3 linked regions of the Homo sapiens genome follow. The protein of the gene in region 3 interacts with the protein of the main gene of each other region in a biochemical or structural test. Each region holds a gene or a part of one and is shown on either strand. Other genes may lie near its edges.

Evidence for each region.
Region 1: the proteins of ORC4 (region 3) and MCM3 form a complex in vitro, tested with the Homo sapiens proteins (one large-scale study listed by BioGRID and IntAct).
Region 2: the proteins of ORC4 (region 3) and MCM10 form a complex in vitro, tested with the Homo sapiens proteins (one large-scale study listed by BioGRID and IntAct).

The regions. Positions count from the first base shown.
Region 1 is NC_000006.12:52,278,147-52,281,801, forward strand, and holds part of MCM3 (DNA replication licensing factor MCM3), read right to left. Parts: intron 3,529-3,655; exon of another isoform or gene 3,407-3,528; coding exon of another isoform or gene 3,395-3,406; intron 1,454-3,394; coding exon 1,215-1,453; intron 705-1,214; coding exon 596-704; intron 1-595. UniProt on the Homo sapiens protein: Acts as a component of the MCM2-7 complex (MCM complex) which is the replicative helicase essential for 'once per cell cycle' DNA replication initiation and elongation in eukaryotic cells.
Region 2 is NC_000010.11:13,185,538-13,189,192, reverse strand, and holds part of MCM10 (protein MCM10 homolog), read right to left. Parts: intron 3,030-3,655; coding exon 2,913-3,029; intron 313-2,912; coding exon 113-312; intron 1-112. UniProt on the Homo sapiens protein: Acts as a replication initiation factor that brings together the MCM2-7 helicase and the DNA polymerase alpha/primase complex in order to initiate DNA replication. Additionally, plays a role in preventing DNA damage during replication.
Region 3 is NC_000002.12:148,010,604-148,014,258, forward strand, and holds part of ORC4 (origin recognition complex subunit 4), read right to left. Parts: intron 1-3,655. UniProt on the Homo sapiens protein: Component of the origin recognition complex (ORC) that binds origins of replication. DNA-binding is ATP-dependent. The specific DNA sequences that define origins of replication have not been identified yet.

The sequences.
Region 1 (3,655 bases), on a different chromosome or scaffold from region 3:
AAAATTATTTTCTAAGACAAATTACACTATCAGGCCATTATCAGAGTAGGCACAGAGCAGCCTGGATTCCAAAACTTGTTTAGAGGTTTAATCTTTAAGGGAAAAAAGTATCCCCAGGTTCAAAACATTTTAGGTTTAATAAGAACATGTACTGTGCTTGAACAGTAACCTTTATCATCACACATTCATATATGTAGTTCAATTCTAAATGTGGATATACATCCTATCTTAAAAAGATAAAAACAAGTTGGAGAACTAAAACAAAGAAAAAATGTTTAAGTAGTAATGCATCACTAACGCCTTCAGTAATAAATAGACTTACTGGTACACGGGCAAGTTAACACCTATCCTAATATTTGTACTAGGCTCATTTAGCAGCCCAGCAGGTAGCAGGTATTAAAATTGTTTAATAACAACAGAATTACTAAAGAACAAACAGCAAAAACACCCTTCATTTGTTGATTGAGACAAAAATAGAAAAAGCTAACACCAAACCTCAACCCTTCCTTCTGATCTAGTACAAAAATAGCCATGCACCAAAACACAACTCTTAGAAATCCATTCCCACCCTCAAATTTCTAAAGGATGCCCAGACCTTGGATCGGGTTTTACTGAACTTCTTGATCTTGGCTATATCCTCAGCAGAGAAAGAGGGCTGAGCATCCTTGCTCATCTGCTTAACATTACAGGCAATCAGGACAGTCCTGGGACAAACAGAATAAAGAGGAAACCCGTTATATTCAATTCCTAACATCAGTAGCTAGTACCCCTAGCAGGAGTAAGCCTTTTTAGGCTGCCAAACTAGACCAGCCAATTAGAGTTGGTGGGGAGGGGGCAGGTAGCTATTGTGAATTAAACAACTGGTTCTGTCTGTGATCCAAATATGCTGATCATGCCCCACCTCTGGAATTGACCCACAGAACTTCAGACAGAACTGTGTATGGGGACGAAGTGTAATTAAATGAGAAACTCCCAGGAAAGCCATGAGGCTGTAATCATTGTCACCAATAACTCTCATTTTTGGCATATGATGGTTAAGTATCACCAGCTTTATCTGATAGAAAAGAGGTATTGAAGGTATCCTGTCTCCCAGGCAGGTAGAGTGCTCCACCTATCAGATATAACTCTCTGGAATATGGCAAACTGGAGAAAGGATATTACCAGAAATGGAAGCTGTCAACAGCATTCCATATACTTTAAGGCAGACCCTTTACCTGAAGGTCCCAGAGGTGTAGCCTCCCTTCTTTCCAGGAAGGCAACGGTAGGTTCCCACCACCTGAACCCGGTCACCAGGCTTCGCTTTATCCACCAAGTCATCATCCAGAATGACGTCCACAGAGCGGGGGAGCTGGCCGGCTGGGGCCTTCTCCGGCATCTCCTGGATGGTGATGGTCTGGTGATCCTTGTAGACAGAAAGGCCATATTCTGTCTCAAGGGGATTGTTCTCCTCATCCTAGAAAAAGGCACACAGAGGGACAGAGTGATCTCCGTCCTGTCTTAAAAATGCCACACTCACCTGTCATGGCAAATAAGATGACTTCATAAAATTTTATTATTCAGTAACAAAAAAAGCCAAGTACCTTCTCTAGCTTTTTGTGTTCCTGTCTGTTTTAGTAACAACCATCGAATGGAAGGGGCAACCCATAGTCTGAATGGACTATGGTTATATTAACATCTAAATTAAGATTCTTACTTCCCCTCTAAAGCTGAATATATGCTTACATTCTGAAGCAGTTTTTCCACTCCTAGGTAATACCCAACAGAAACATTCACCCAAAGCCATGCATTGTAATGCTCATAGCAACATTATGCCTAGTAGTCAAAAATTTTAAAGTGTAAAAATGCCATCAATAGTGTAATGGTTAAACACGGTATATTCACATAAATGAATACTATACAGCAATAAAAATGTATGAAACACACCTATACACAACATGGATAAATCTCATAAACACAATGTTGAGCATAAAAAGCCCATAAGTATTTAAATAAAAAACAGCTGAAAGTAATCCATACTGTTAGACATCAGGATAGTGGTTACCCCTAGGTAACATGAGCCCTCAAGAGGGACTTCTGTGTGCTAATATTTCCTCATTTGGAGCTGGTTACACAGGTGTACTCAGCTTGTAAAAATTCATCAAGCTATACACTTATGTGAGCTTTCCTGTACGTATATTAAAGTTTTACTTCCTTCACATTTGAATTTTCTAAAAACACAGTTGTCACTTATTGAGTGTTTGCTATGTGCCAGGCACTGTGCTATTACTTCACAAAATTATCTCATGTAATTATCACAACAACTTTGTAAAGAAGGTATTTTCACACGTCATGCACAAGGAAACCAGGAGACTAGGAGAGATTAAGTAAGTTCCCCCAGGTCACACAGTTAAGTAGCAGAGTCTTGACTTGATACAGGTGTTAACTCCAAAGCCCACGCTCTTAAGCATCACCATAGACAACCTCCAGAAGATCTGGTCCAATGTATTTCACTTTTCAAGTAAAGAAGCTTGGCCACAGTAATCAACAGAAGAGTACTTCCCAAGTACTTCCTGAAGAGGAAATTCTAAAAAAGTGGAGATCTTAAGGTCCGAAGAAGACAACAGAATGACTTAGAAAATACAACTGGCATGAATTAAAGAGACACAGGTCCTAGTCCTTAAGGCCATCACTAACTGGGACCGTAAGCAAATTGTTTAACTTCTCTGATCTCAGCATTTCATCTGGAGGTAGACTAAATGATGCTAAAGTATGTTTAAGTTATAATTCTAAGATATTCATTCGTTTTTGTTTATGTTTCATTTCTCCACCACTGTGAAGACTAATGACGAGGACTGGGTCTTATTTATATCCTTGTCCTCCATAGCGCCTAATAGTGCTTTGAATACAGTAGTTCTCAATTAAAATTTGATGAGGGGAGGAGAGGAATTGTTTGATAGAATCAGTTCAGACATCAAGTAATCCATATAAATGATCTTTTGTCTCCAGAGGAAAACCTTGCATTGTCCTCAATCCAGATCAATCTGAACACCAAGAAGAAAGCATTTTCCTATGCCAACCTGCTCCCAAACCCGCAACAAAATATTTGTAAAGATTACATAACAGTCTAGCATTATTTTTCTACTTTTTAAAAAGCAGATTCTAAAATTATAACGTTGTTAAAACATCTATGTAGATGACTTCTTCTTTTGACTATTCCTTAATTTTCTAAAATGAACAAGTGTTTTCTTAAAAAAATAATAAGAGTTGTGGCTGGGCATGGTGGTTCATGTCTGTAATCTCAATACTTTGGAAGATGGAAGCAGGAGGATCACTTGAGGCCACGACTTCCAGTCCAGCCTGGGCAACATAGCGAGACCCTGTCTCTAGAAAAAAGTGAAAAAAAAAATTAGCGGACCTGGTGGTGCATGCCTATAATCCCAGGTACTCAGGAGGCTAAGGTGAGAAGATTCGTTGAGTCCAGGAGTTTCAGGCTGCAGTGTTCTATAATGGCACCACTGCACTCCAGCCTGAGAGAGACAGATCCCGTCTCTAAAAAAAAAAATAAGAATTGTGAAGCCAGGTGGCGTAGCACATGCCTGCAATCCCAACTACTTGGGAGGATCACTTGAGCCCCGGAGTTTGCAAATTTAGTGCACCATGACTGCACCTGCAAATA
Region 2 (3,655 bases), on a different chromosome or scaffold from region 3:
AAAGATAAAACCTGTACAAGTATCCTATGACGGTTACAGGAAGGTACAACCAGTAGGTTTAGTCTTTGATAAGCAAAATCCTCTGCCCAAAAGAAGCCCGAGAACGTCTTACATTGAAGCTGCATACGAGGCAGAAGAAACCCCTCCGTAGTAAAAGCCATCTTGGCACAGCCGTTCTTTGAGGCTGGTGCCTCTGCGGGCAAACTTCTTTGGAATTCGTCCTCCAGAGAAGGTGGACTGCAGATCCGCACGCTTTGCGCTGAGCTTCTTGTACTGAGCCTGGACATGGTACTGACAGTACTCACAGTCACGCTGCAAAAGGCAGAGCAGTGGCATCAGGATGAGGGCAACAGGCTGGGAAACAGCAGTGAGCAGACACAGTTCCTTCTCCCCACTTCCCGGAACATGACGCATGCAGAGTCCTCCCTGCTGACCTCCACGACCGTTCCCAATGTGGAAGGGCTGCTCAGTCCCTGAGGGGAAGAAGTTCTTCCCTTCGAGTCCCCTGAAAGCACTGTTCTGGTGAAATACCCCTTGCCCTCTTTCTACAAAGGAAATCAGCTTTTAGGATGAACCTTGAAAACAAGTTAGGTGAAAGAAGTCAGACACACAAGGTCCTATGTTATTTAATATAGGACCTATGTTATTTAATATAAAAGGAAGTTTTTATAGAAGAGGCAAATCCATAGAGACAGAAAGCAGATTAGACGTCACCAGGAGACGGAGGGAGTGGGGATGGGAGTGATGACTTTATGGTGCCATTGTTTTTACAGGGTGATGGAATTCTGAAACCAGGGAGCTGGTGGTTACACAACTAAATATCACTGAATTATATATGTATTTTAAAATGATTAACTGTATATTGTGAATTTTGACCCAATAAAAAATAATTTAAAAACAAAATCAGCTCCCAGCGAGGTTTTTCTAGCTGTTTCTCTGGTTGATCCTCGGACAAGTGCTATCCTTTCAGTGAAAGAAACAAAGAGAGATGGTGCAGCATTGTTCTGCTGGGTGAACAGTAGTTACGGCGACAATGGATTTTTTTTTGGAGACAGAGTCTCGCTCTGTCACCCAGGCTGGAGTGCAGTGGCGTGATCCTGGCCCACTGCAACCTCCAACTCCTAGGTTCAAGTGATTCTTCTGCCTCAGCCTCCCAAGTAGCTGGGATTACAGGTGTGCACAACCACGCCCAGCTAATTTTTGTATTTTTACTGGAGACGGGGTTTTACCATGTTGGCCAGGCTGGTCTTGAACTCCTGGCCTCAAGTGATCGGCCCACTTCGGCCACCCAAAGTGCAGGGATTACAAGTGTGAGCCACCGCCCCATCCAGACAATGGATTTTTAAGAATCTAATTCTCACGGGGAGATCTGTTGGGTACTTCACTCTGAAACCTCATTTTCCAACCGTCTCCCACCTTATTCTTTCCTGTCCACCAATTAATCTAATAGGAAGGAATAAGGGAATAAAAAAAGATTAAACCAAAACCTGTCATTTAATCCTTTCAAAGAACTCTAAGAAGTACCTCTTCACACCTACTACAATGGCTATAACAAAAAAGAAATAGAGTAACAGGTGCTGATGAGGACAGGGAGAAACTGGAAAGTTCATCCATTGCTGGTGGGCCACTTGGGAAACCAGTCTGGCAGTTCCTCCAAACTCTGGACAGTTACCATGTTGACCCAGCAATCCCACTCCCAGGTATATGCCCAAGGGAGTGGAAAACATACATCCACATAAAAACTTGTATGTGAGTGTTTTAGCAGCATTATTCATAATAGCTAAATGTGGCAACAACCCAAGCGTGTATCAACTGATGAAAGAATAAACAACGTATGGTATATCCATACAATGGAATATTATTTACCCACAAAAAGGAATAAAGTGTTGATAAATGCTACAGCACGGATCAATTGTGAGAAAAATTATGCTAAGCAAAAGAAGCCAGACAGAAAAGGCCACATATTGTGATTCCATTATATGAAATGTCTAGAAGAGGCAAATCCATAGAGACAGAAAGTAGGTTAGTGCTTACCAGGGGCTGGGGGAGAGGAGACTGGGGAGTGATTGCTAGTGGGTACTGGGTTTCTTTCTGGGGCAATGAAAGGGTTCTGAAATTACACAGTGGTGATGGTTGCACAGCTCTGTGAATGTACTAGAAATTACTGAATTGTTGACTTTATTTATTTATATTCTTTTTTGGAGACAGAATCTCACTCTATCGCCCAGGCTGGAGTATAATAGTGCGATCTCAGCTCACTGAAACCTCTGCCTTCCAGGTTCAAGTGATTCTCTGGCCTCAGCCTCCTGAGTAGCTGGAACTACAGGCGCCCACCACCATGACCGCCTAATTTTTGTATTTTTAGTAGAGATGGGGTTTCACCATGGTGGCCAGGCTAGTCTCAAACTCCTGATCTCAGATGATCTGTCCGCCTCGACCTCCCGAAGTGCTGAGATTACAAGAGTGAGCCACCACACCTGGCCTGAATTGCTTACTTTAAAAGGGTGAATTGCATGGTATGTGAATTATACCTAAATGAAGCTATTATTTTTTAAAAAGCCCTAAGAAAAGGTATAATGGAGTTAAAATATAGGCTAAAATACAATTTTCATTGTATTTCATCATGTTTGCTCTGTGGAATTACAAGAATTAAAGGCAAACAAAAATTCTGTCTTAAACTTCTTGGTCAGATAAAAGATCACTTTCCTAAGAGGTTAAATCCCCTCACCTTTCCCCTGCCCTCACTTTTTTAAACTGGCAGTTATTAACCACACATTAAATTTTCTCATTTTGACTCTTCCTTTAAGTGGGAAACTCAGTTCCAAACTGGTCATCACAGCTAAAGCACCAACAGTTTATTCCTAACTGTTCTTTTCTTTAGCAGAAACCATCCTAACAAGGCTGAAACCAACCAAATTCACAGTCTGCGTGCACGGCTCTCCATTCTTCTTCTTGGCTTTACAGGTTCCCAGGTCAAGAGCTTCACCCATAATTAAGACCTTCTGAGGATGATCGATAGATAAACACACCTGTAAGAAAAGGTGGGGCAGGAGTTAAAGGCGGACAAAATTATGGCCTTTTATTAGCAGGAATAGAAAAAAGAATGGTTGGTGCTGATTTAAGAAGGTTATTGCCAGGCGCAGTGGCTCACACCTATAATCCTAGCACTCTGGGAGGCCGAGGCAGGTGGATCGCTTGAGGCCAAGAGTTTGAGACTAGCCTAGGCAATGTGGCAAAACCCTGTCTCTACAAAAAACCACAAAAATTAGCCAGGCATGGTAGTGCGTGCATGTAGTCCCAGTTACTTGGGGGGCTGAAGTGGGAGGATCACTAGAGCTTGGGAAGTCCAGGCTGAAATGAGCTGTGATCACACCACTGCACTCCAGCCTGGGCAACAGAGTGAGGCCGTCTCAAAAAGGAGAGAGGTTTTAGTGGTCTAAAGGAATTTGAAGCCAGGGCTCTATAACCGTTTTAGGAACAGGGATGCAGAAGGCACCTTCAGTTCTTTTCCCATTTTCCATCCTTTCCTTCATCTTTGCGATTGGAATCCTGATTTTCTCTAGGCTGGCTGACTTCTCAGCCTCAGGTCATAGATCCTGTTCCCTGTTCTCCCAGCACTCCTTAGAGCTAGCATTGGTTATGTGATAAGTTCTAG
Region 3 (3,655 bases):
AATTCCTAGGCACATACAGCCTAAGAAGAATGAAACATTAAGAAAACCAAAATCGAAATAGACCCATAATAAGTTTCAAGATAGAAACAATAATAAAAAGTCCCCCATCACAGAAAAGGCCAGGACTTCATGGCTTCACTGAGTTCTACCAAACATTTAAAGAAGAACTAACATCAATCCTACTCAAATCATTCTCCAAAATCAAGGAGGATCTCCAAATTCATTTTATGAGGCCAGATTTATTCTTTTTTTTTTTTTTTTTTTTTTTGAGACAGAGTCTCACTCTGTTGCCCAGGTGATCTGCAACCTCCACCTACTGGGTTCAAGCGATTCTCCTGCCTCAGCCTCCAGATTAGCTGGGATTACAGGCATAAGCCACCATGCCCAGCTAATTTTTGTATTTTTTGTAGAGATGGGGTTTCACCATGTCGGCCAGGCTGGTCTCAAACTCCTGGCTTCAAGAGATCTGCCTGCCTCAGCCTCCCAAAGTTCTGGGATTACTGGCGTGAGCTACCATGCCTGGCCCCAGATTTATTCTGATACCAAAACCAGACAACGATACAACAACAACAAAAAAGAAACTACAGGCCAGTATCTCTGATGAAAATAGATATAAAAATCTTCAACAAAACACAGCAAACCAAATTCAACAGCACATTAAAAAGATCATCATAATCAAGTGGGATTCATCCCAGGGATGTAAGGATGGTTCAACATATGTAAATCAATCAGTGTGATACATGGTATCAACAGAATGAAGGACACAAAGTGTATTGTCATTTCAATAGATGCCAAAAAAATCTTTTTTGATAAAATTCAATATCCCTTCATAAAAACTCTCAGCAAACTGGGGACAGAAGGATCATCCCTCAACATGATAAAGCCATACACAACAAACCCACAGTTAGTATCAGACTGAATGGGGGAAAAACTGAAAGCCTTTATTCTAGGATCTAGAAGAAGGATGGGCACTTTCACCACTATTACTCAAGTTAGTAACAGAAGTCCTAGCCAGAGTAAACAGACAAGAGAATGAAATAAAGGGCATTTAAATTGGAAAGGAGTAAGTAAAATTATCATTGTTTGCAGCTCATGTGATCTTATACTAACCTAAAGACTCCAACAAACGACTATTAGAACTAATAAATTCAGTAACATTGCAGAATACAAAATCAACACACAAAAATCCATAGAATTTCTCTATGCCAACAGTGACAACCTATCTGAAAAAGAAATCAAGAAGGTGATCCCATTTACAATAGCTACAAATAATATTAAATATCTAGAAATAAACTTAACCAACTACAATGCAAACTATCAAACATTGATGAAATTAATTGAAGAGGACACAAACAAATGAAAAGACATCCCATGCTCATGGGTTGAAAAAAATTGTATTGTTAAAATGACAATACTTCCCACAGCAATCTACAGATTCAAAGCCATCCCTATCAAGAGCAATGACATTCTTCACAGAAATAGAAAAAAAAAATCCTAAAATTGTATGGAAGCACAAAAGACCCCAAATAGCCAAAACAATCCTGACCAAAAAGAACAGAGCTGGTAACTGGTAGACTTACCACACTACCAAACCTCAAAATATACTACAACGCTATAGTAACCAAAATAGCACGATAGTGGCATAAAAACAGACATGTAGAACAACAGAACAGAGAGTCCAGAAATTAATCTGTGTATTTAAAGCCAATTAGTTTTTTACTAAGGTGCCAAAAACACTCATTGGGAAAGGACAGTCTCTTCAATAAATGGTGTTGGGAAAACTGGATGCCCACATTCAGAACAACAAAAGTAGACCCCAACTCTTGCCATATACAAAAATCAAAGAAAAATGCATTAAAGACTTACATCTATGAAACTAATCAAGGAAACCATTAGGCAAAAACTCCAGGACATTGGTCTAGGCAAAGACTTCTTAAATAAGACCTCAAAAACACAAGCAACTAAAGCAAGAAAATAAAATAAAATAACAACAAATGAGATCTCTCCAAGCCAAAAAGCTTCTGCACAGCAATGAAAACAATAAAATGAAGATATAACATGTAGAATGGGAGAAAATATTTCAAACTAATATCTGACAAAGGATTAATAACCAGAATATATAAGAATCTCAAACGACTCAATAGGAAAAAAAAATCTGATTTTAAAATGGGCAAAAGATCTGAGGAGACATTTCTCAAAAAGACATACAAATGGCAAACAGGCATATGAAAAAAATGTTCCACATTATTAATAATCAGAGAAATACAAATCAAAACTATAATGAGGTATCAACTCACTCCAGTTAAAATGGCTTTTATCGAAAAGGCAGTCAATATCAGATGCTGGTGAGAATGTGGAGAAAGGGGAACCCTTGTACACTGTTGGTGGAAATGTAAACTGGCACAGTCACAACAGAGAACAGTATGGAGCTTCCTAAAAACACAACAAATAGAACTATAATCCAGCAATCCCACTACTGTGTATATACCCAAGAGAAAGGAAATCAGTATATAAAAGGTATCTGTACTCCCATGTTAACTGCAGCACTATACACAATAGCCAGGATATGGAATCAACCTAACTGTCAATCAATGGATGGATAAAGAAATGTGGTACATATACACAATGGAATGTTATTCAGCCATAAAAAAAAAATGAAATCCTGTCATTTTCAACAATATGGATGTGACTGACATTATAAGGGAAATAAGCCAGGCATAGAAAGACAAGTATCACATGTTCTCACCCATATGTGGAAGCTTCAAAAAAATTGAAGTCATAGAGATAGTGAGTAAAAAGATGTTAGCAGAGGCTGGGAAGGGTAGTGTTGAGAGGAGAATCAAGAGGAGATGGTTAATGGGTAGAAAAATATAGTTAGATAGAAGGAATAAAATATAGTGTTCAGTAGCACAATATAGTAATTACAGCTAACAATAATTTAGTGTATGTTTTAGAACAATTAAATGAGTGGAAATGAAATGTCCCTAACACAAAGAAATGACAAATACTTGAGGTAATGGATATCCCAATTACCTGATTTGATCATTACACATTGTATGCTTATATCAAATATCACATACTCCCCATTTTATGTATCCATAGTAATTAAAAATTAAAATTTTTAAATATATGAGTTAAGTTAAAAAAATTTTGGCTCAAAGCATAAATATATTAAAATCAAATCTCAGAAGTAAAAAAGAAAGACAATTAGGGTTTTATTTATGGTAGTGGCAGACAGGACCAACCTTTCTGCTGACGCCAACAAAAAAACTAAATAATGAATGAAATAAAGTAATGTGAAATTACTTACCAAATTCCATGTGAAGGTAAACCAGAAACAAACCATACACCAAGTAACTTTTGTTCTGAGGACATTTTCCTGTCTAGAAGAAAAGGCTGAGAAAAAAGGCTGAGCTAATGGAAGATGTGCCGGTCTATGGTAAAAAAATCAAAGCACAAGGCCAGGTGTGGTGGCTCATGCCTGTAATCCTATCCTTTGACAGGCCAAGGCAGGAGGATAGCTTGAGCCCAGGAATTCAGGATGATTGTGTGCAATACAGCGAGACCTCATTTAAAATAAAAATAAACACAAAAAATCAAAATCAAAAATAAAAATAAAAGCACATTGCCTAACAAAGCTGGGGACTCAGATAAA